3 separate regions of the Homo sapiens genome follow, and all the other regions are linked to region 3. Evidence: fine-mapped expression QTL. A gene starts in region 3. Each other region holds a variant in brackets. All regions are shown on one strand. Distances are between the middles of the regions. Region 1 has its middle 20 kb from the start of LITAF. Region 2 has its middle 37 kb from the start of LITAF. Region 3 holds the start of LITAF (lipopolysaccharide induced TNF factor).

What was found.
Region 1: its variant is fine-mapped to the expression of LITAF in skeletal muscle (GTEx, PIP above 0.99).
Region 2: its variant is fine-mapped to the expression of LITAF in T cells (TOPMed, PIP 0.93).

The regions. Positions count from the first base shown.
Region 1 is chr16:11,602,657-11,610,196 of GRCh38, forward strand. It overlaps a transcript of LITAF not described here. Among named protein-coding and RNA genes, the nearest start is that of LITAF, 20 kb to the left of the region's middle. RefSeq lists enhancers at 577-1,169, 2,619-3,118, 6,546-6,595. The variant A/T (reference allele first, on the strand shown) is at 4,616.
Region 2 is chr16:11,620,506-11,628,045 of GRCh38, forward strand. It overlaps a transcript of LITAF not described here. Among named protein-coding and RNA genes, the nearest start is that of LITAF, 37 kb to the left of the region's middle. RefSeq lists enhancers at 1,494-2,262, 1,711-2,000, 6,579-7,113. The variant T/C (reference allele first, on the strand shown) is at 3,951.
Region 3 is chr16:11,582,508-11,590,047 of GRCh38, forward strand. It overlaps LITAF (lipopolysaccharide induced TNF factor), which reads right to left and starts at 4,412. Exons shown (of 4, transcript NM_001136472.2): 1 at 4,379-4,412. RefSeq lists an enhancer at 3,166-3,275 and silencers at 4,176-4,255, 4,286-4,765.

The DNA of each region.
Region 1 (7,540 bases), 20 kb after region 3:
CACTCCATGCCACAAGTATGGTTGAGTTACACTTGTGTTTTATTTCTATACGAGTGCCCGTGTGTACCAGGTTGTAAGATCTATTGTTCACTGTGGCTTGTTGCAAAAAAAAAAAAAAAAAAAAATTGGAAAGCCTTGAAATGGAAACTATCTAAAAGAAAGGACACAGGTGGGATTCAGTGACTGACTCACGCCTATAATCTCAGAGCTTTGAGAGGCCGAGGTGGGAGGATTGCTCGAGGCCAGGAGTCCCAGACCAGCCTGGGCAACCCAGCGAGACCCCATCTCTACAAAAAAATAACAAAAAATTAGCAGATTATGGTTGCCCATGCCTGTAGTCCCAGCTACTCGGGAGGCTGAGGTGAGAGGGTCCCTTGAACCCAGAAGTCCGAGGCTGCAGCGAGCTGTGATCACACCACTGCATTCCAGCCTGGGCAATCTAGAAAATAAAATAGAACACATTTAAAAATAAAAGGAAGAACACAAACAGTAAAGGGTGCCTCCCTCTGAAGAGGAGGAGGGGGTTGCAGGCAGGAGCTTTATATTATACAATTCTGTACTATTTGTGTGTTTCTTTTTAAACAATCAGCGTGTATTGCTTTTGCAATAAAATAAAGACCTTTAACAATCTTTTAGAAAAAATAAACTTCCCTGCCTCCATCCCCAGGATGGGGGCGGTGCTGTTTGAGCTGTCAGCAGGCTTTTGAGGTGAAAAAGACCAAATCCCTGCCCCAGGGGCTCTGCCTCCCGAGGGGTTTCAAGGGCCTCCCTGGCTGTCTTCCACGCGCCCTTCTCTTCCCCTCCAGAAATCCAGGGGAACATCCAAAAAGGAAACACGCCTTGAGATGTCGGTCTTCATTTTCCAAAATGGAACAGGCGCTCCAGTTTTAGCCTGGGAATGGCTGGAAACGCCCTGGGGGACACAGCTGCCTGGCAAGGTTTCCTAGCAGACAGAGCAATGCGGCAGTATCAGAAATGGTTCGGAAAATCCGCAGCCCCCATCCCAACCCGGCCACCTCAGCAGGCATGCAATTGTGTTTCCAGCTTAGCTGACAAAGAGCTCTCAGAACTCCTTCTTATAAATGCACATTTAAGAATCCACTAGAGGCCGGGCGCAGGGGCTCACGCCTGTAATCCCAGCACTTTGGGAGGCTGAGGCGGGCGGATCACAAGGTCGGGAGATCGAGACCATCCTGGCTAACACAGTGAAACCCCATCTCTACTAAAAATACAAAAAAAAATTACCCAGGCGTGGTGGCGGGCGCCTGTAGTCCCAGCTACTCAGGAGGCTGAGGCAGGAGAATGGCATGAACCTGGGAGGCGGAGCTTTCAGTGAGCCAAGATCACGCCACTGCACTCCAGCCTGGGCAACAGAGCGAGACTCCACTAGAGGCTGGGCGTGGTGACTCATGCCTGTAACTCCAGCACTTTGGGAGGCTGAGGCAGGAGGATTGCTTGAGCCCAGGAGTTTGAGACCAGCTTAGGCAACATAGTGAGACACTGGAGGGGTAGGTGGTGATGTGAAATTTCAGTTCTGTGTGCTTATTGTTCTAAATCAACCAAACCCATTCATGCCTGCTCTAAAATGTGGAATATGCTTGGTGGATTTTAACTTGGAACTACATTCACTGAAGGGAAAGAAATTCCTGAGAGCTGACCTCTCATGAGCCCCTGTGAAGCAAGTATTTCATATATCATTAGTTCATTTAATCCTCATTACGACCCAACTAATTGCACAGTTTTGTATCATAAATATATTGTTTAGATAGCAAAGGGAATTTATTTGCTCATATAGTTGGAAAGTCCATGGTGAGGACTTCAGGCATGGCTGGATCCAGGAGCACAAATGCCATCATCAAGAATCTCTCGGCCAGGTGTGATGGCTCACGCTTGTAATCCCAGCACTTTGGGAGGCCAAGGCAGGAGGATTGCTTGAGCCCAGGAGTTCGAGACCAGCCTGGGCAACACAGCAAGACTCTGTCTCTCTTAAAAAAAAAAAAAAAAAAAAAAGAATCTACTAGGTGGTGGCCACAGTTGTGTCACCTGGATGGTTCCCTATTATAAAATGTCACTGCAATAGATATTGCTGGGCACATGGCTTTTCTTTTCTTTTTTTTTTTTTAGGGTTATTTCCTTTGGGCAAATTCCCAGAAGTGTGATTACTGACGAGAAAAGTATAGACATTTCCAGGCCCCTGAAACGCTGCGTCAAACTGCTTCCTGAAGAGGCTGGGACCCACCCACGCCTGTTCAAGGAACTGCCTGCTCAGTGTAATGAAGCCACTGCCATCTCGGTCATCTTTGGATGTGAAACATCTGTTCTCCTGTGTCGGGAAGTTGGAGCAATGCGGGAAAGAACGGAACTTCCTTGCCTACTCCAGGAATCGGCCAGGACCACTGCTGGACGTGGGGCACTTGAATGGGTCCCTCACCCGTGTGCAGGCCCTCAGGGCTCCCAGGAACAGGAATGTGTCCTTTCCTCTCTCTCTCTCTCTCTCCACTGTGCAAACAGGGAGCCCAAGCTCTCAGCATCCCCCCAGCCAGCTCTGGATGGAGGATGAGCTGAATTACGCACCGTGGACTTCACCAGTGGGGCTGTGACAAGTGCCTGTGTCCCCGTGGGGAATGTGGCCCCTAGTATTCAATGGGGGGATGCCACGCAGGTCTGGCTATGTCTTCAGAAACCCCCACGAGGCCCAGGATTCCTCCCAGGCGGGATCCTGTGCACCTCCCGGAGGACTGGGAAGAGGGAAAGGAGCACAGCTAGCACTGCCCTGGGCTCCCTTCACAGTGTGGGGGACCCCTTCCCAGCCCCGTGTCTCTCTTTACAGCCCAGAGCCGCACAGGAGGGAGACTCCTAGGCAGGGGCCGCAAGGAAGGAAGGGAAGAAAAGGAGAAAGAAGGGAGGGAAAAAGAGAAATGAAAAGAAAAAGAATTGAGATGGGACAAGGAGTGAGAAGAGGGGAGGAAGCAAGAAAAAGTAAAGCAGCAGCCAGCCGGGCACGGAGGCCAAGGCAGGAGGATCGCTGGAGGCCAGGAGTTCGAAGCTGCAGTGAGCTATGATTGCACCACTGCACTCTAGCCTGGGCAACAGAGTGAGACCCTGTCTCTAAGAGAAAGAGAAGCAAGAGAGTTACCGTGAGAGCCCCGAGAGCTTCCCACACTACACATGTCACTCTCACAACCGCACCAGGAGGTAGGTTCCACTGTTCCCACGGAAACTTATCAATAGCTGCCTCTTTAGGATCAAGACCAACCTCTCCCACGGCCTGCGCACAGCCTGATCTTCTGGGAGCCCCCATTCTTCCTTCAAAGTGTTGCACACACAGGATATGTGATCATTGATTTAGTTGAGGGATCCTTTTTCGTTAAACTTATTGTGGGCTATTGCTATCAGACACAGAACAGGCATGATAGGCTGATGGCACTGACCTCTACACCCTACTCACCATCTGGTCTGTCTGATGCTATCCGTCCCACATGGTTCCCTCTGCCCCTGGATTTTTTTTAATTTTTATTTTTTAATTTTTTGAGATAAGGTCTGGCTGTATCACCCAGGCTGGAGTGCAGTGGCATGATCTCGGCTCACTTCAACCTCCACCTCCCAGATTCAAGCCATCTGCCCACCTCAGCCTCCCGAGTAGCTGGGACTACAGGCACGCACCACCATGCCCAGTTAATTTTTGTATTTTTTGTAGAGACGAGGTTTTGCCATGTTGCCCAGGCTGGTCTCGAACTCCTGATCGCAACTGATCCACCTGCCTCGGCCTCCCAAAGTGCTGGGATTATAGATGTGAGCCACCTCGCCTGGCCAGAAAAGTTCCTGAAGGAAATTAAAAGTACGCACATGAATGATAAGAAAGTGAAACAGGCTTACTGCTGATATTAATTTTATATGCACTGGAAAACCAAAACATTTCTGTGACTTGCTTTCTTGCAATTTTTGCTTTATTGTGGTGGTCTGGAACCAAAACCATAGTATCTCTGAGGTATGCCTGCAGCCACAAAACTACAACATGCCCAGGCTGGAGTGCAGTGGCACGATCTCGGCTCACTGCAACCTCTGCCTCCCGGGTTCAATCGAATTTCCTGCCTCAGCCTCCCGAGTAGCTGGGACTACAGGCCCCCACCACCATGCCCAGCTAATTTTTTTGTGTATTTTTAGTAGAGGTGGGGTTTTGCCATGTTGACCAGAGTGGTTTCGAACTCCTGACCTCAGGTGATCCACCTGCCTCAGCTGGTCAGAGTGCTGGGATTACAAGCGTGAGCCACTGCGCCCGGCCTACTTCACTGTATCCTTCCAACAACCTTACGAGCGAAGTGCTATTCCTGTCCTATATTATGGATGAGGAAACTGAGTTCAGAGAGCTTTCAGGAATGGCCCAAGGTCACACCACCATTTGGGAGTAAATCCACATCCTCACCCCAGGCAGTTTGGCTCCAGAGCCCCAGCTTCCACTGCTATTCTGAACTGCCTACAGTGTGGACCACGTTTTCTGTTCCAAAGTTGGGAAAGTAAAACCCCCACTCTCAGGGCAGGTGCCCCATGTATAGCTGCCTTGCCAAGCTGGCCTCAGCCTTGCATCACAGGCCTGCATCAGAGGATGCAATGTGAT[A/T]CTCACTATCATGTTCCCTGCAGAGCTGTGTCGAGAACAGTGCTGTCTCCTCCAGCACATTGCCTTGGCCCCTGTATAAGGGCCTGTAGGAGAAAAGCCCTTCACACCCAAGAAGGCTGGACTTCCCTTAAGCTCTTAATTTATTTTCAATTTTGGGTCAGTGAGAATCTTGAAATTAATTGGTTCTCTTTTTGCTCTGGCCACTAGGAAGCTCAGAGCCAAATGTATGTCCCACTTCTGAAAGTAGTGTGCTTTAATATGGGTATCATTCGGGAAAAAAAAAAAAAGTTCCTTCCTTCTTATTGTTTTCTACCTCAACGTCCTCATTAAAAAAATCCTGTTGTTTTGTTGGTATCTCTGTAAGTTACCTCGAATCCATCTTGGAAAAAGGCAAGGGTTGTGAATGCAAAAAAAAATTTAATAAATACAGGCACACATGAAAAACGAATGAACAACCATAACATCACCAGACCAGGGTTCATCAACCTTGGCACTATTAGTATTTGGGGCCAGGTCATTCATTGTTATGGGCGCTTGCCTGTGCATCATGGAAGGTTTGGCAACATCCCTGACCTCTTTCTAGAAACCAGTAGCACTCCTCCCCACATCATGGCATCCAAAGATGTCTCCAGATGACATCTCCAGATTTGTCTCCTAGGACCAAATTCCCTCCCAGTTAAGAACCCCTGTCCCAGCTCCCTGAAGGCAGGATCATTATGGTTTTACAACAGTAAACCCCCTCAGGCATGAAGCTGGCACTTAGCAGAAACAGCTGGCTGAAGAAATAAACTAATGCCTGCCCCAGTACATCATCCCTTTCCAGGCTTCCAGGACACAGAGCTCTTGCCATCTCGATCCTCCTAGCACCCCCATGGGATCAGAATTAGATCCTTGCGTCACAGATAAACCCCACTGGGGTTCAGAGAAGCTGAGCGAGTGGCCCAAGATCACACCGCAAGCACAGCCCAGGATAAAGGATAGAGTGCAGAAAGACTGCCTGTCCCTCGTTATGGTGAGAAGAACGGGGAGCAGTGAGGAAAGGGACGTAGCTGGATCATGGGGAACAAGTTGGATTCTACCGGGTGTGGGGAAAGGGGAGGGGAGTTCCCAGGTAGGGAAATCCCAGCATGAGCAAAAGCCCGTAGGCAGGAATTTGAGCAGCTTGCTTAAGAGTTGGGAACTCCCACAAGAATTGAAAACCTAAAAATCCATAGGAAACTGTACACAAATGGTGGAAACACCCCAAATGTCCGTCGACAGACAAGTGGATGAACAAAATCCGGTCTATCCATACAACGGAGCATTATTCAGCCATGGAAAAGAATAAAGCACTGATACGGGCTGCATCGTGGATGAACCTTGGAAACAGTACACTGAGTGAGAGAAGTCAGGTGTGAAATGCCACAGGGGGCCAGGCGCAGTGGCTCATGCCTATAATCCCAGCACTTTGGGAGGCCGAGGCAGGTGGATCATCTGAGATCAGGAGTTCGAGACCAGCCTGGCCAACATGGTGAAACCCTGTCTCTACTAAAAATACAAAAATTAGCTGGGCATGGTGCCGCATGTCTCTAGTCTCAGCTACTCGGGAGGCCGAGGCATGAGAATCTCTTGAACTCAGGAGGCAGAGGTTGTAGTGAGCTGCACTCCAGCCTGGGTGACAGAGTGAGACTCTGTCTCACACACACACAAAAAAAACAAAACAAACAAACAAAAAAAAACGCACCGAGTATACAGTTCCATTGATGTGAAATGTCCAGAACAGGCAAATTCACAGAGACAGAAAGCGGATTCATGGTTTTAGGGCTGGGGGAACAAGGAAATTAGACAGCGATGGCTAAAGGGGATGAGGTTTCTTTTGAAGCTGTAGAAAAATGTTCTGAAACTGACAGTGGTGACAGTTGCACAATTCTATAAACTAAAAGCCTTTGAATAGTAGACTTTTTTTTTTTTTTTTAATACGGAGTCTCACTCACTCTGTCGCCCAGGCTGGAGTGCAGTGGCGAGATCTCAGCTCACTGCAACCTCCACCTCCTGAGTTCAAGCGATTCTCCCGCCTCAGCCTCCTGAGTAGCTGGGGTTACAGGCGCCTGCCACCACACTCAGCTAATTTTTTTGTATTTTTAGTAGAGATGAGGTTTCACCATGTTGGCCAGGCTGGTCTTGAACTCCTGACCTCAAGTGATCCACCCGTCTCGGCCTCCCAAAGCGCTGGAATTACAGGCGTGAGCCACCGTGCCCGGCCTGAATGGTATGCTTTAAATGGGTGAATTGTCCGGTATGTAAATTACGTATCCAAAACACTCTTGGAAAAAAGAAAAAGGGATAAAGGGAGCAAAGGATTCAGGCTGCAGGACTGGCTGTGCCACTTCCCGGCTGCGTGACCGTGAGCAAGTTACTTCACCTCCCAGAGCCTCAGAGGCCCCCATCTGCTACGGTTGAGAGATGCCTGCTGTTCAAGGGACCGTAAACATTTGTCCCTGGCATGCCTCCTTCCTGCCCACTTCTCCCTCACACTCCAGAAGCCTCCAGAATGTCTGCTGCAGGAATGGGGCAATTCCTTGAAATCCAAACGGAAAAGACCAGGCTTTCCTGGCCAGTGATGGAAACAAATTTTCACTGTCGTCCAAGGCCTGGATGCTGAAATCACACCCCACCTTCTCTCTCCAGGCCCAGAGGTCCCCGCCTGTCATTTACAGTTTCAAGGCACCAAATGACCCCAATGATTTGCAAAGGATTCCCTATGGCCACCAATCTCTGCAGCCTTCAATCCTCCCCACCCTAGTCCCCACTGCTCCTGATGGCTTTGGGGGGCCTCAGGGAAGCACAGAGAAGCTGGGACTCACCCTGCAAAATAATCCAGCCCAGGAGGACTGGGTGGTGGGGGGACCCCATAAAGAAGCAAGTGTGTGAGCAGCTCCTCCGCAC
Region 2 (7,540 bases), 38 kb after region 3:
ATGAGCCCAGTAAACCTCATTTCTTTATAAATTACCCAGTCACAGGTATGTTTTTACAGCAATGCAAGAATGCCTAAAACAGCCTCCCAAAGCACTGGGATTACAGACGTGAGCCACTGTGGCCAGCCCACTTTCCCACTATTGAAGGTGATATGGAAAAAATAGGTCATTTCTATTCTGTGAAAGAATCAGCAGCACAAGTATGATGATATTAGGAACTTATTCTCAGCCTGTGGTCAGGGAGACAGACAATAGGGAGTGGTGGGGACTGTGACAAACTGAAGGGCAAGGCCCCATGTAACAGGTGCAGCGGGCACTGTCATGGCCCTGCCCACATCTCCCTCAGCAGCTGCTGCTCCAGGACATGTCAACACTGCACACTGGGCTCGCCATTTGTGACTTTCTATTTTGAGATGGTCTCGCTCTGTTGCCCAGGCTGGAGTGCAGTGGTGCCATCATGGCTTACTGCAGCCTCAACTTTCTGGGCTCAGGTGATCCTGCCACCTCAGTCTCCTGAGTAGCTGGGACTACAGGCGCACTCCACCACACCCAGTTAATTTTTTTTTTTTTTGAGATGGAGTTTCGCTCTTGTTGCCCAGCCTGGAGTGCAATGGCAGTGCGCGATCTCGGCTCACCGCAACCTCCGCCTCCCAGGTTCAAGTGATTCTCCTGCCTTAGCCTCCAGAGTAGCTGGGATTATAGGCATGTGCCACCACGCCCAACTAATTTTGTATTTTTAGTAGGGACAGGATTTCTCCATGTTGGTCAGGCTGGTCTCGAACTCCCGACCTCAGGTGATCTGCCCACCTCGGCCTCCCAAAGTGCTGGGATTATAGGCATGAGCCACTGCACCCAGCCCCAGCCAATTTTTATATGTTTTGCAGAGATGGGGTCTTGCTATGTAGCCCAGGCTGGTCTTTAACTCCTGGGTTCTAGCCATCCTTCTGCCTCAGCCTCCCAAAGTGCTGGGATTACAGGCATGAGCCACCGCTCCTGGCCCACCCATGACTTTCTACTTGAAGTTTTCTTCTTGGCCTATGTGCAGAACAGACTGGTATTAACCCCCCTCAGAAGCAGGCCTCCATCAAGGATAGACAGGAGTCAGAAGGGAACATCCCAGCCCCCTTGCCCCTCAGGAAGCACAACCCACGTTCTACACAGCTCCCCTGAATTCCCCGGCAGGATGCAGCCCCAGGTGCCCACAAGAGTGGCCGGCTCCCTGACACCTTGTAGTGTGTGTTGATTCTTTCCCTGCCCCGACTCTCTTCCCAACTGCTTGTGCTTCCTGAGATCCCCTCCCTAGTAAACCACTGGCACCCAGATCCTAAGATCCTGCTCTCAGAGCTCCGGGGCAATGCAAACTAAGATAAGAAACCAGCTCCTACGTTGCTGCAGCCCATTTCTTCTGGGTGGGAAGGCAAGACCTTCCCATTTTTTTCAAAAGAAACCAAGATCCAAAGTTTCTCGTGAAACCTTCTGAGGGTTCATTGCCAGCTCAAATTAAACAATGCAAAACAAAATGAAACAAAACACGTCTGCAGGCCCGCTCCAGCCCTTGGCCTTCCCAGTTCAGAGCTGTCGGTGGCTGATGAGGGTGGAGGCAGTGGGGATGTGGTTAGAGAGTGTGTTTGGGGGACCCGCCCTGGCAGCCTGGTGGGGACAGCTCAGAGGAGGTGCCACCATAAGCCAGGCGGCATGGCTTGCTCATGAGACCCCAGCTGGAAGCATCTGGACCGCCTGGCACGGCCACCCTCGGGCTGTCAAGAGACCCAGAGTAAACAGCCTGAACGCTTTCCCAAACACACAGACCCCAAGCCGCCTGCGGCCTCCCCCTGCTCCCTGGGTGGGGAGATATCCCAAGACCCCTCTGCCTGCCTGACATCTGAGCTCAGGCCCAGGAAAAACAAACCCCGGATGGCTGGAGAGCCCCCGGGAAGAGGCAGCAATCACGGGAGAGCCACTTGCAGACCGCACACTTGTGAACTTCATTTTAATTCTGTGCAGATGGAGGAGGCTGTCTGTGCAGATTTCCACCTCCCTACACAACCCCCTTCTTTCCTCTTGCAGAGAAAACAAAAACGGTGTCTCTCGAGATTGCTTTTGCACCGTTTAACAGGGTTATTTAAAGCCATTGCTTTTCTGCTGTCTTTTCAGAATGTAAATTAAGAATACAAGGTGTCGTGAAGGATACTGGAGGGGTAGGTGGTGATGTGAAATTTCAGTTCTGTGTGTTTATTGTTCTGAACCACCTAAACCCACCCATGCCTGCTCTAAACTGTGGAATATGCTTAGTGGATGTTAAGTTGGAGCTACATTCACTGAAGGGAAAGAAATTTCTGAGAACAGACCTTTCATGGGCCTCTGTGAAACAGGTATTTCGTATATCATTAGTTCATTTAATCGTCATCATGACCCAATTAGTTGTATAGTTTCATATAATGAATATATATATATATATATATATATAATTTTTTTTTTGAAACAGAGTCTCGCTCTGTCGCCCAGGCTGGTGCAGTGGCGTGATCTCGGCTCACTGCAAGCTCCGCCTCCTGGGTTCATGTCATTCTTTTGCCTCAGTCAACTGAGTAGCTGGGACTACAGGCGCCCACCACCACGCCCGGCTAATTTTTGTATTTTTAGTAGAGACGGGTTTCACTGTGTTAGCCAGGATGGTCTCGATCTCCTGACCTTGTGATCCACCTGCCTCAGCCTCCCAAAGTGCTGGGATTACAGGCATGAGCCACCGCGCCCGGCCGAATATATTTTTTAGATAGCAAAGGGAATTTATTTGCTCATATAGTTGGAAAGTCTGTGGTAAGGACTTCAGGCATGGCTGAATCCAGGAGCACAAATGCCATCATCAAGAATCTCTCAGGCTGGGCGTGGTGGCTCACACCTGTAACCCCAGCACTTTGGGAGGCCGAGGCGGACAGATTACGAGGTCAGGAGTTCGAAACCAGCCCGGCCAGCATGGTGAAACCCCATCTCTACTAAAGATACAAAAATTAGCCAGGCAAGGTGGCGCATGACTGTAGTCTCAGCTACTCAGGAGGCTAAGGCAGGAGAATCGCTTGAACCCAGGAGGCAGAGGTTGTGGTGAGCTGAGATCACAACCTTGCACTCTAGCCTGGGTGACAGAGCGAAACTTTGTCTCAAAAAAAAAAAAGGATCTCTCTCTTGGCCAAGTATGGTGGCTCACCCCTGTAATCCCAGGACTTTGGAAGGTCGAGGTGGGCAGATTACCTGAGGTCAGGAGTTCGAGACCAGCCTGGCCAACACGGTGAAACCCCGTCTCTACTAAAAATACAAAAATTACCTGGGCATGGTGGCAGGCGCCTGTAATCCCAGCTACTTGGGAGGCTGAGGCAGGAGAATCTCTTGAGCCCGGGAGGCAGAGGTTGCAATGAGCCAAGATCGTGCCATTGCACTCCAGCCTGGGTGACAAGAGCAAAACTCCATCTCAAAAAAAATTTTTTTAAAAGAAGAATCACTCTCTTGGCCAGATGTGATGGCTCACACTTGTAATCCCAGTACTTTGGGAGGCCAAGGCAGGAGGATCACTTAAGCTCAGGAGATCAAGACCAGCCTGGGCAACATAGTAAGACCCCATTTCTACCAAAAATAAATAAATAAATAAATAATTTCTCTCTCTCCGTCTCTTGCCTCTGCTCTCCTCTGTGATTGTATCATTCATTATCAGGTAGGCCTTTCCCTCAGAGGGGTAAAGAGGGCCCCCAGCAGTTCCAGCCTTATCCCCAACCAACTAAACATTTTTGGTGGAAAGAGAATATTTTCCAATAGTTCCAGCTAAACTCCCACGGTTGAATCTCACTGGTCCGGTGTGGGTCACGTGCCCATCCTCTGGTCAATCTCTATGGTTACAGCAATAGAATTCATGATAACAAGCCCCTCCCTGGAGTCTGAGACTGTCAGCCTCACTAGAATAGAAA[T/C]GGAAATAGGTAGTTACTATCCTCAGAAGGAGCCCTAGATGCTGACATTCAAAAATAACAAATGCCTACCACAGTGGGGCATGTGAGAAGAATAGGTGAGTTCTATGACATCTTGCACAGCAAGGCTGCCGTGACAGTTGCACAGGTTGTGCACTGCACATCTCTACAGGGTCTCCATTTATATTCACTATCACCCTATGTTTACAGATTTATCATGATAAATTTCCAACAGACTGCAGTTAAACATCTTCAGGAAGGGAAGTGTGATCGACTGAAAATGAAAAACATGGTCGCAGTATTTTGCAACTCTTCCTGTCAAGAGGTAGAGTCTATTTCCTTACCCCTCAAATCTGGGTGGCCTCGAGACTTGCTTTGACCAATAGAATATGGTAGAAGTGACTCTACAAATTTTGAGGCTAAGACTTAAGAGGCTTAGTTTCCACTCTGACCCTCCTGGCGTGCTGCCTGAGACTGCCCGATAAGACTACCCCATAAGAAGGCAAACAGCCCCCAGGAGGGTGAGAGGTCACGTGAAGGAGACCCAAGGTGCCCCAACCAACCAGCTCTGGACTGGAGGACCCAGGAAGGTGAGACAAACTGCTGGGTGAACTGTGCTGTGCCAACTCATTGAAGCTGAGAACTCAATTTCCCAGAATTTCCTCCCCATGTGGTTCTGGTTAGAGATGACCAAAAGAGGAACATGAGTGAAATTTGGAGAGTGGAGACAAAGCAGTGGCCGTGACTCTCTGAAGGTCACTGTGGTCCGGTGTGATGGTGGGTGGTGTCTCCCGAGATCACCTCCCAAAAACCTTTTTTTTTTTTTTTGAGACAGGGTCTCGCTCTGTCACCCAGGCTGGAATGCAGTAGTGCGATCTCGGCTCACTGCAGCCTCTGCCTCCTAGGCTTAAGCAATCCTCCCACATCAGCCTCCTGAGTAGCTGGGACTACAGGCACGTACCACCATGCCAGGCTCATTTACGCATTTTTAGTGGAGACAGGGTTTCGCCATGTTGCCTAGGCTGGTCTCCAACTCCTGGGCTCAAGCAATCTGCCCATCTCCGCCTCCCAAAGTGCTGAGATTACAGGTGTGAGCCACTGTGCCTGGCTCCAGATAAATTACTTGCACCCAAATTTCTGTCTCAGCATCAGCCTCTGGGGGAACCAAGTCTAAGACAGGCTTCTTAAGAAACCCTGAGTTCCCCTAGGTTGTGTGCTGAAGGAATGCAGTGACAGAAATCAGAGCAGAAAGAGATCAACCTTCCCTTTTAATCTTTCATTTATTCATTCATTTTACAGTCAGTGAGTCCCTGCTGTGTGCCCGCGCTGGAGACAGAAAGAGCCCAGAACTTGGAGTCAGCCAGGCTAGTTCTAACTCCAGCCCTGAGACACAGACAAGTCCCCCTAAGCTCTTGGAGCCTCATCTGATCCTCACAATGGTCCTACGAGGCAGAAAACCTCATGACCCCAGTGCCCATGAGGAAATGGAAGCACAGAGAGGTTGGGTGACCTGCCTAAGGCCACACAGCTGAACAGTGGCAGAACCAGGATTTGAACCTGGGAGTCAATTCCAGATCCCATGCGCTTAGTAAATTTCTCAGGAGTTCCAGAGACTGGGCTGATTGATGAAAGTTCCAGAATTTAGGACTTGTTCCAATAAATGGTATGAATTAGTTCCCCTATGTTTGTGAGAAAGATCCCACTACTTTACTTTAAAAAAACAAAACGAACAAAAAAAAAAACTTCTTTTTATACAGTGAGTCAGAGTCTTGCTGGAGTGCAGTGGTACAATCTCAGCTCACTGCAACCTCTGCCTCCCAGGTTCAGGCAATTCTCCTGCCTCAGCCTCCCAAGCAGCTGGGACTACAGGCTCATACCACCATGCTCTGCTAATTTTTGTAATTTTTTTTTAAGACAGTCTTGCTCTGTTGCCCAGGCTGGAGTGCAGTGGTGCAATCTCAGCTCACTGCAACCTCTGCCTCCTGGGTTCAAGGGATTCTTCTGCCTCAGCCTCCTGACTAGCTGGGACTACAGGCAGGCATCACCATGCCTGGTTAATTTTTGTATTTGTAGAGACCAATTTCACCATATTGGCCAGGCTGGTCTCCAACTCCTGACCTCATGATCTGCTGGCCTCGGCCTCCCAAAGTGCTGGGATTACAGGCGTGAGCCACCGCGCCCAGCCTGTAATTTTTTTTTAGTAGAGACGGGGTTTTACCATGTTGGCCAGGCTGGTCTCGAACTCCCACCCTCAGGTGATCCGCCCACCTTGGCCTCCCAAAGTGCTAGGATTACAGGCGTGAGCCACCTTGCCCGGCCTTTTAAAACATTTCAAGCTCTACTAGGTCCACTATATTTTTATTTAATGTGCTACTGGTGAAAATTTATTTCTTCTTTTTTTTGTTTTTTTTTGAAATGGAGTCTCTGTCGCTCAGGATGGAGTGCAGTGGCACGATCTTGGCTCACTGCAGCCTCTACCTCCCGGGCTCAGGTGATCCTCCCACCGCAGCCTCCCAAGTGGCTGAGACTACAGGCACGCACCACCATGCCTGGCTAAACAAGCTTCTTCCAGTCTGATCCCATCCCCCTAGGAACCCGGGTGTGGACGGCCTCTCTTACCTTTGCTGCAGACGCGTCCCTCCTTCCTAGCCCCAGGGGCTGTGTCATGCACATGACCAAGCCTGGCCAGTGGCTACCCAGCATCTCCTGAGCCTCAGTGATTGCTCCAGTAATGGGCATGTGACCCAAGCCAAGCCAATGACAATCAACCCCAAGACCCTTGCTGGAGCTCCTTGAATAAGACGAATTCTTTACAAGGCTGGTGAGATGAAAACCCGGAGCTGCCCAGCACCATCTTTGCCAGCAGGTAGAGCAAGCCCACTGGAGAATGAAGCCAACACAGAGAACAGCCAGGCTTGGAGTTGGAGACAGATCCCTGACAGCATGGTCTGAGCTTCTGGATCCAGCCAGGCCTGAAGCTCTTGCCCTCCCCACTTCCCAGTGACACAATACATTCTGCAATGGCATAAACCAGTTCCAGTGGGATTCTGGTTTTTGCAGCATTCTGCTATTCATCCTGACTAATGTATTAGACTTAAAAAAATACAAGGCCTGGGAGTGGCGGCTCACGCCTGTAATCCCAGCATTTTGGAAGGCCGAGGTGGGCAGATCACCTGAGGTCAGCAGTTCGAGACCAGCCTGGCCGACATGGCAAAACCCCATCTCTACTAAAAATACAAAAATTAGCCAGGTGTGGTGGTGCACGCCTGTAGCCCCAGCTACTCTGGAGGCTGACGCAGGAGAATGGCTTGCATCCGGGAGGCAGAGGTTGCAGTGAGCCGAGATTGTGCCACTGTGCTCCAGCCTGGGTAACAGAGCAAGACTCAATATCAAAAAATAAATAAAAATACAAAAATTAGCCGGGCGTGGTACCACACATCTGTAGTCCCAGCTACTCGGGAGGCCGAGGCAGGAAAATCATTTGAACCCAGGAGGCGGAGGTTGCAGTGAGATTGCGTCACTGCACTCCAGCCTGAGCGACAGAGTGAGACTCTGTCAAAAAAAAAAAAAAAAAAAAAAAACAAGGCCTGTAA
Region 3 (7,540 bases):
GATCGATTCTTCCAGGAAGAAAAAGGAGAAATATTCAATTCTACTCTGGTCTCCATCTCCCAGCCCCCAGAAAAGAAACACTAAGCTAGGCCCATGAATATGTATATCGCAGAAATGACCCCAGAATAAAAAAAGGGATTCCTTAGGCAAAAGAAGGGCACTCACATGCAAATTGTCAGGTCCCCTAAGAAAATAGCCTAGTTTGTAAACAAGAAAGAGAACCAGCTGCGAGGGTCAAAAAGGTCTGGTCTTTTAGGGTCTCTGGAGAAAAACGTTATTTCCAATAATGGGAGCACAGTGGATCCTGACTATAATCAACTTTCAGGAACTATCCAAATTGTACACTTATTAAATTGAATATTGCTTAAAATTCTTAAACTAAGGAGGGTCACCTGGCAGGTTTTAAGCTACAATAATTCTGCAATACGGTTTTTGTTGTCATGGAATTTAACCTGTCTATCATTCCTGAAAATGTTCAAGGTGAATGGTGCGTCTTAAGCCATAAATGGTTAAGCAGGAAGGTAGACAAAAGGGGAAACCCGGACCTCCAGCTCTTTGGGAAAGGAAGCGAGAAATTGGCCTTTGGTTATTTGATCCCAAACAAATTCCAGTTTCAGTAGACCTCAGTAAAAGTACAGAAGCTCAGAGTGAAATATTTCAGAGAAATGTGTGCCAATTCCATCTTCTGAGTTCAGGCTGTTTCTGCAGGGCGGTATGTCCCACAAGTCAAAGATAAAGTTACCACAATCTTAAAGCCAGGTTCAAGCATGGCGTAATGACAAATCACAGTGATTTGTGGAATGGAAAATGCTTCCATCGGGGAGTTGGGCTGCTCCCCCACAATCAGAGTGGGCAGTTTTCCTCTGGACTCCTGGTGAAACCACATCCCTAGTTTCCACGTGAATCACAGTTTTTCATCAAACAGTGCAAGGAGATCATTAATAAGACTGAGACTGCATTAGGATACAAAATTGTATGAACGCTGATGACAATTTCATAGAAAACAGGCACAAAGACAAAAGACAGAAGCCGCCCGATAAGGACAGCCAGTGGTAGTTGTTTCGTTCTATAAGATTATGCCTTTCTTCTTTATCTTCCACACTTTAATATTTTTTAATAAAAAATTTCAAACTATCAGTGCATCATCTAGGAATAACCTCATGGATTCAAGTTTAAGGCAAGACATCATTAAGCTCTTAAACTTACCTGAGGCACACTGTCAATTAAATCTAAGGCTCCATGAGCTAAATAGCTTAAATTCTCCAACATTATTTTCTCTGAAGCCTCCAGCTTTGGATCCTGGTATATAAACTCCTACCTACTGCGAGGTGAGCAGAGAATTACCATCACATAGACACCCTCCAGAATGGTTCCTTTCTTGTGTCCATGCCTTAAGCTCTATGAAATTACACAATTCTTCTACTGAAATAACCTGCAGCCAAGGGACAACTTCATTAGCTACAAAGCTGTTGTCACCTGTGTCCAGAGTGTCAATCAATACAGGCTCAAACAACAAGATGAAATTATGAGGACCCTGGAAAATGCCACTTGACCTCAAATAACAATTCTTAGGCAAGTAAACATCAATCAAATTCAGAACAGACCATGGGTGGCCAAACAGACCCGGGAGACGTCAAAAATATGTGTGCTAAAGAAACACAGAACTAAGGAAGTCTATTTACCTGATAGACCGCCTCACCCACGGGGCTATTTTCACTGCTGTAAAAGCGAAAACAAATAGAGGACAAGTCACAGTGCCAAGAATACAGGACTTCCTCTTGCAGATCCTCTTTTTTCCACCCTCACTGTAGCTCTGGGGAAATTCCTATTCAGTGGGAGAAGTTTAAGTCACAAAACGGCACCAGCCCATTCTCAAAGTGCTATTATACACCTCTGAGCAGTGAGGATGGGTAATGTCAGCAAAATATGCACTGTTTATTTTCTTGAAAATTAACTTGGGCTGGAAACGCCTTCCAGCTCCTTCCTCTCAGTGGATTTTCCATTTACTGTCTTCAACCACCTGGGCTTGTCTGTACCTCTTCCACAGCTCTACTGAGACCCTCCTGTTTGTCTGAACTATGTCCTCATGTTCCTTCTGCCACATGTGCTCAGGCCTCAGTTTTTCCATGAAACTTTCTCTAACTTAGCTGCCTCCTTTCCACTGTTCTCAAGCCCTTTCTGGAGTTACAAGGGCATTAGCAAGCACCAGCTTTTTCGCCGGTGTGTGTTTCTACTTTCTACCCATTGCGTAAACCCCTCAGGACCAGGAGCCATTCTTCTGCATCCTTTACACGGCAAGGGTAGCGCTTTATTTCTCAACAGCCCGCCCATAAAAGGAACGGAAGTAACAAAGGGAAATGTATTCCCCAAAGACAGTGAATTACACTTCAATCTACTATTTTAGAGACTTAAGAAATGGGCCGGGTGAGGTAGTTCACACCTGTAATCCCAGCATTTTGGGAGGCCAAGGCAGGTGGATCACTAGAGGTCAGAAGTTCGAAAACAGCCTGGCCAACATGGCAAAACTCTGTCTCTACTAAAAATGCAAAAATTACCTAAGCATGGTGGCACCCAACTGTAATCCCCGCTACTTGGGAGGTTGAGACACTAGAATTGCTTGAACTCAGGCAGGGGGTTGAGGTGGGGTGGGGAGGGTTAGAGGTTGCAGTGAGCCGAGATCGCACCACTGCACTCCAGCCTAGGCGACAGTGAGACTCTGTCTCAAAAAAAAAAAAAAAAAAGAAAGAAATTGATCCTACGTCTTAGATCAATCACCCAGTCACTTAATCTGTGAAAACATTACAAGATACTTTCTCAAATGTGAATAAATGCATCAATTATTCATGCCTTAAAGTAACAGGAAAGAGGGAGATGGGCCTCCCTCATGGTAGATTACAATTAAATGTTTCTTAGAGAGTTTGGTGCACATTTAGTTCCCAGAGCAAGGGCTGGTGGAGAAGAAAGCCAAGTGCAATATGGGTGTTACTCTATGCCAGGTAAAGCAAGTCACACGCCATCTAGATCCTGCTCCAACTGATAAAACCAAAACACTGGTGGAATTCCAGATACCAGCCTGCACTTCTCTCTGTAGGCATCTGGGTTAGTCCTAAATAGGAAGTCCTAAAAAGAGTCACTCTGAGAAGGCAGGGGGTGAGAGGGCAGATGAAGCAGCCAAGCACACATTAAGGCAAATCATGGCTTTCCTAAAGAGGACCCCAAGCTGGGCTTCAGACAGTCTTTGAACCAGCACCAGTGCACCAGGCCAAGGGGAGGGAGGCATCCTCTTTGGGAAGACTGGTAGGAGCTTGGAAGACCCCGTGGCTTCCACAAACTGTAGATTTCCCAGTGACCACTGCTCAGTCCAACAGCCAGTGACATCAGCTCCACTGTCGGGAAGTAGAAAACCAGTGAAGGTCCAACTAGCCTGGTCCCTGAAGCATGACTGGCCCTTCCAGAACATACACCTTTCCCCTATCACCTCCTCTCCCTGACCCCGAAGAGCTTCGGGCACACCACCAACTGACCACCTATCCACAGTGACCTGCAAACCAGAGCGGGGAGGGTATTTGCCTAGCTTGGCAGGGAGGGGCGAGATCCACTTCTGCCACCAGTCACCAGCTGGTCCCACCAGCACCTACCCAGCACCGGCGGTGGACGGTGAGCGGCGTCTGGGCCCAGAGCTGGGTGCCATCAGCAGTAAGAGGACCCCTGCGCTCGCGGGGTGCCCGCCTTACCCCGCGGGGAGGGGTCAGGCCTAGGGGCCACGGCCCGCTTCGCTCTCTGATTTTCACCTCCCCAGGGTCTCCCAGGGGCCTCGGGTGTCCTTCCCGGATCTTGCGCGAAGTCGCGGGGGCAGGGAGAGAAACGCGGGTACCCGCGCCCCTAGAAGTCAAATGTTTGGCAAATAGCATTTGGGAATTCGTTGGGGTTTTTTTGTTTGTTTTGGTTTTGTTTCTGAACCCCCGGGGGATATTTCTGGAAATCTCAACCTGAGTCACTAGAGAGAATCGCGCCTTTTTCTAAAAAGCCCAGGGGCCGTCCTCTCCGGGGAGGGGGACGCGGCGGGCCGCGAAGGGCGCTCGTTCGGGTGGGGGCCGGACGACCCCGCCACGCGCGATCGGGCCACTCTGGGACGCAGGAGCTGAACCCAACCGGAGACGCGGCCGGGACCAGCGCTGGGAGGCCGGACCCCGCCCCGGCCGGGCCCCCACGCCCTCCGCCGCGCCTCGATGCCCGCGACCCGACCCGCGCCCCCTGGCATCCCAGGAGGCCCCAGCCAAGGGCTCAGTGCCCGGGGCCCCCAGCAGGTGCTGGCGCCACCGGCCCCCCGCTGTCTCCCGCTGGTCCCCGCGCCCCGGCGTCCCCGCGCCGCACTCACCGCCGCCCGCGCCGCCTGTCGAGCCGGGAGGTCTGAGCTGGCCTCTCGGGCGCCCCGAGAAAAGGGCCGGGCGGCGGGGACGGGGGCGGGGGCTGGACCCGCCGGGGCGGAGCGCGGCCGGCTTGGGCTTCCGGCTTCTCCCGCCCCCGCGGCCCGCACCTGGGCCCCAGGCGAGACCACCGCCGGTTCCCCGCCTCACTCTGATCGCCCCCAGGCTCCATCCCACACCCGGCTCGCTCGCCACCCCAGAGCTTCCCAGGCTTACCCCCGAGACGCCTGGCGCGGACCTGGTGTCTCCCCCACTCTCCTATCCTGCCCCTGCCTCTCGGTGCCAGCCCCACCCGTCCGCCCCCGACAGCCTGGCCCTCCCTCCTGATTTGCCGCTCGCGGCTCTCCCCACTTTCCCCCCTCCCCGCGCCGCTCCACCACTTCCAGGCGGCGGGACCACCAACCTCGACCCCGGACCCGCGCTGGGGCGCTCCCGGCCCTCTGGAGGGCGGCCCTTCTCTTCCTGTAACTCTACAGACGCGTCCGGACAGACCAAGACACTCTCTGTGCCTTCGGGCATGTTACCCATCCTCTCTGAGCTCGGCTTCCTGTCTGCAAAATGGGCACAATAGCGGTCCTGTCTCCTAAGACCGACTGGGAGTGAACTGGGAAGATGGTAAAGTTTTTAGCACAGGATAGGTATTAGGTAAGGCTTATCAGCTGCCTGTCCGCTTTGTGCCCCCAGGGTGGTCCGTGCCGCCAGGTAGGCCTTTCTCAGCCATCACTGAAAGCAAGCTCTGGAAATCAGTAGCCCCATTTCACATCCGCCCCTAAATGGGTGCCATCTGCCCGTCTGCTTGGAGCCCCATCGGCCGGCTGCAGTGATAACAGCAGCAGCCTGGATCCAGCAGGCTCTCTGGGAAATCATTAGAGGGAATTAAGAAGCATGCCTGGCTTTCAGAGTACACAGAGTCAGGAGATGGGCAGAACCATGATGTGGCCATCCACAAACAAACGCCATTTGGACAGGGAGCTTCCGAGCCCCATGCTGGCAAAGACCTGGATCTTAGAACCCTCCGGTGCCCAAATCCCATGCCTTTACCCGAGGTCCTAAAGATAGTGAGGCCCAGATAGGGAGTGTGGCTTGTCCCGGGTCCCTCAGCAAAGTGTCCCCAGCCCCAAGTTCTTGCCACCTTGCGCCATGTCCACTGACGGGCCACCCTCAGCCGTGGACGAGTTACCAAGTTGGAAGGGATTTCAAAGTTCTCCCAAGCATAGGAGGTTCCCATGTAGATGTTATTAGTGTGGGCAACATTTTACTGCTTTTAAAATATGAAGGGGGCGGGTGCAGTGGCTCTTGCCTATAGTCTCAGGACTTTGGGAGGCCATGGCCAGAGGATCTCTTGAGCCCAGGAGTTCAAGGCCAGGCTGGACAACATAGTGAGACTCCATCTCTATAAAAATTTTTTTAATTAAAAGAATAATAATAAAGCGGTGGAGTGGTGGCATGTGCCAGCTACTCAGGAGGCTGAGGTGGGAGGATTCCTTGACCTCCGGAGGTTGAGGCTGTAGTGAGCTATAATCGAGCCACTGCACTGTAGCAAGCAAGCAACAAAGAAAGAAAGAGGGAAAGAGGGAAAAGAGAAAGAAAAAAAAAAGAAAGAAAAAGAAGAAAGAAAGAGAAAGAAAGAAAGGGAAAAGAAAGAGAAGGAAAGAAGGAAGGGAGGGAGGGAGGGAGAAGAGAAGAACAGGAAATTGGATTACACCCAACCTCTGCCATTCCTCCATTCTCAGGATGCAACCAAGGCTTGCAAAGGTACCAATTATTATACTGACATTAAGACAGAATATCACAGACCATTGCTAGGGAGACATAACACCTAGGGAAAATCTCTCAGAGATAACGTTCAAGAAACATCCCTGTATGAATGCTTTTCTTCCTTCCTTCCTTTCTGTCTCTCCCTCCCTCCCAACCTTTTCTCCTTCCTTCCTTCCTTCCTTCCTCCCTTCCTCCTTTCCTCCCTTCCTCGCTTCCTCCCTTCCTTCCTGTAAAAAGCAGTAGTAAGCCTGAATTTTCTTCTGTCCTTTACTGAATACTACCACATCTTCATTTGTTTTTCTTTCCCCAACTGCTGAGCAGCAACAGGAGCCAGCTTTGTGTTTTTATCCATCCTAAACACTTACCACGGCTGTGAGCTTGCAATTATTTATGGGGAGAGCTATAAGACTGTAACTCTTTTCTTTGATCCCCAAAAAACCACAGAGATTGAATTTCCAACCCAAGGCTTCCAACCAGGGGGTAAAAGTAAACTGGGCCACGTGATCATCTCAATAGACGGAAAAAGCATTTGAAGAAATCCAATAATGCTTTCATGATTAAAAAAATAATAATAAACTAGAAATAGAAGGGAACTTCCTCAACCTTAGGGCTTCTATGAAAATCCCAGAGCTAATGACACACTTAATGGTAAAAGACTGGAAGTTTTACCCCTAAGAACAGGAACAAGCCAAAGTGCCCACTCTGGCCACCTCTGTCCAACATTGTCCTGGAGGTTCTGGCCATTGCCATTAGGCAAGAAAAATAAAAGCATCCAGATTGAAAAGGATAAAGTGAAGCTATCTCTATTCACAGGTGATATGATCCTATATGTAAGAACCCTAAAGAATGTACTAAATACCTATTAGAGCTAATAAACCAGTTCAGCAAAGTTGTGGGATTTAAGATTAACATACAAAAATCAGTTGCTTTTTTTTTTTTTTTTTTTTCGAGACAGGGTCTCTGTCACCCAGGCTGCAGTACAGTGGCTCGATCACAGCTCACTGCAGCCTTGACCTCCTGAGCTCAGGCGATCCTCCCACCTCAGCCTCCTCAGTAGCTGGGACTACAGGCATGTACCACTGTGCCCAGCTAGTTTTTTTTTGTAATTTTTTGTAGAGATAGGGCTTTGCTATGTTGCCCAGACTGGTCTCAAACTCCTGGGCTCAAGCCATCCACCTGCCTGGGCCTCCCAAAGTGCTGGGATTACAGGTGTGAGGCACCACACCCAGCCAGTTGCATTTCTATATACTAGCAATGAGCAATCCAAAAATGAAATTAAGAAAATGGCTCCATTTACAATAGCCTCAAAAGGATAGAAGCTGGGTATGGTGGCACACACCTGTAGTCCCAGCTAC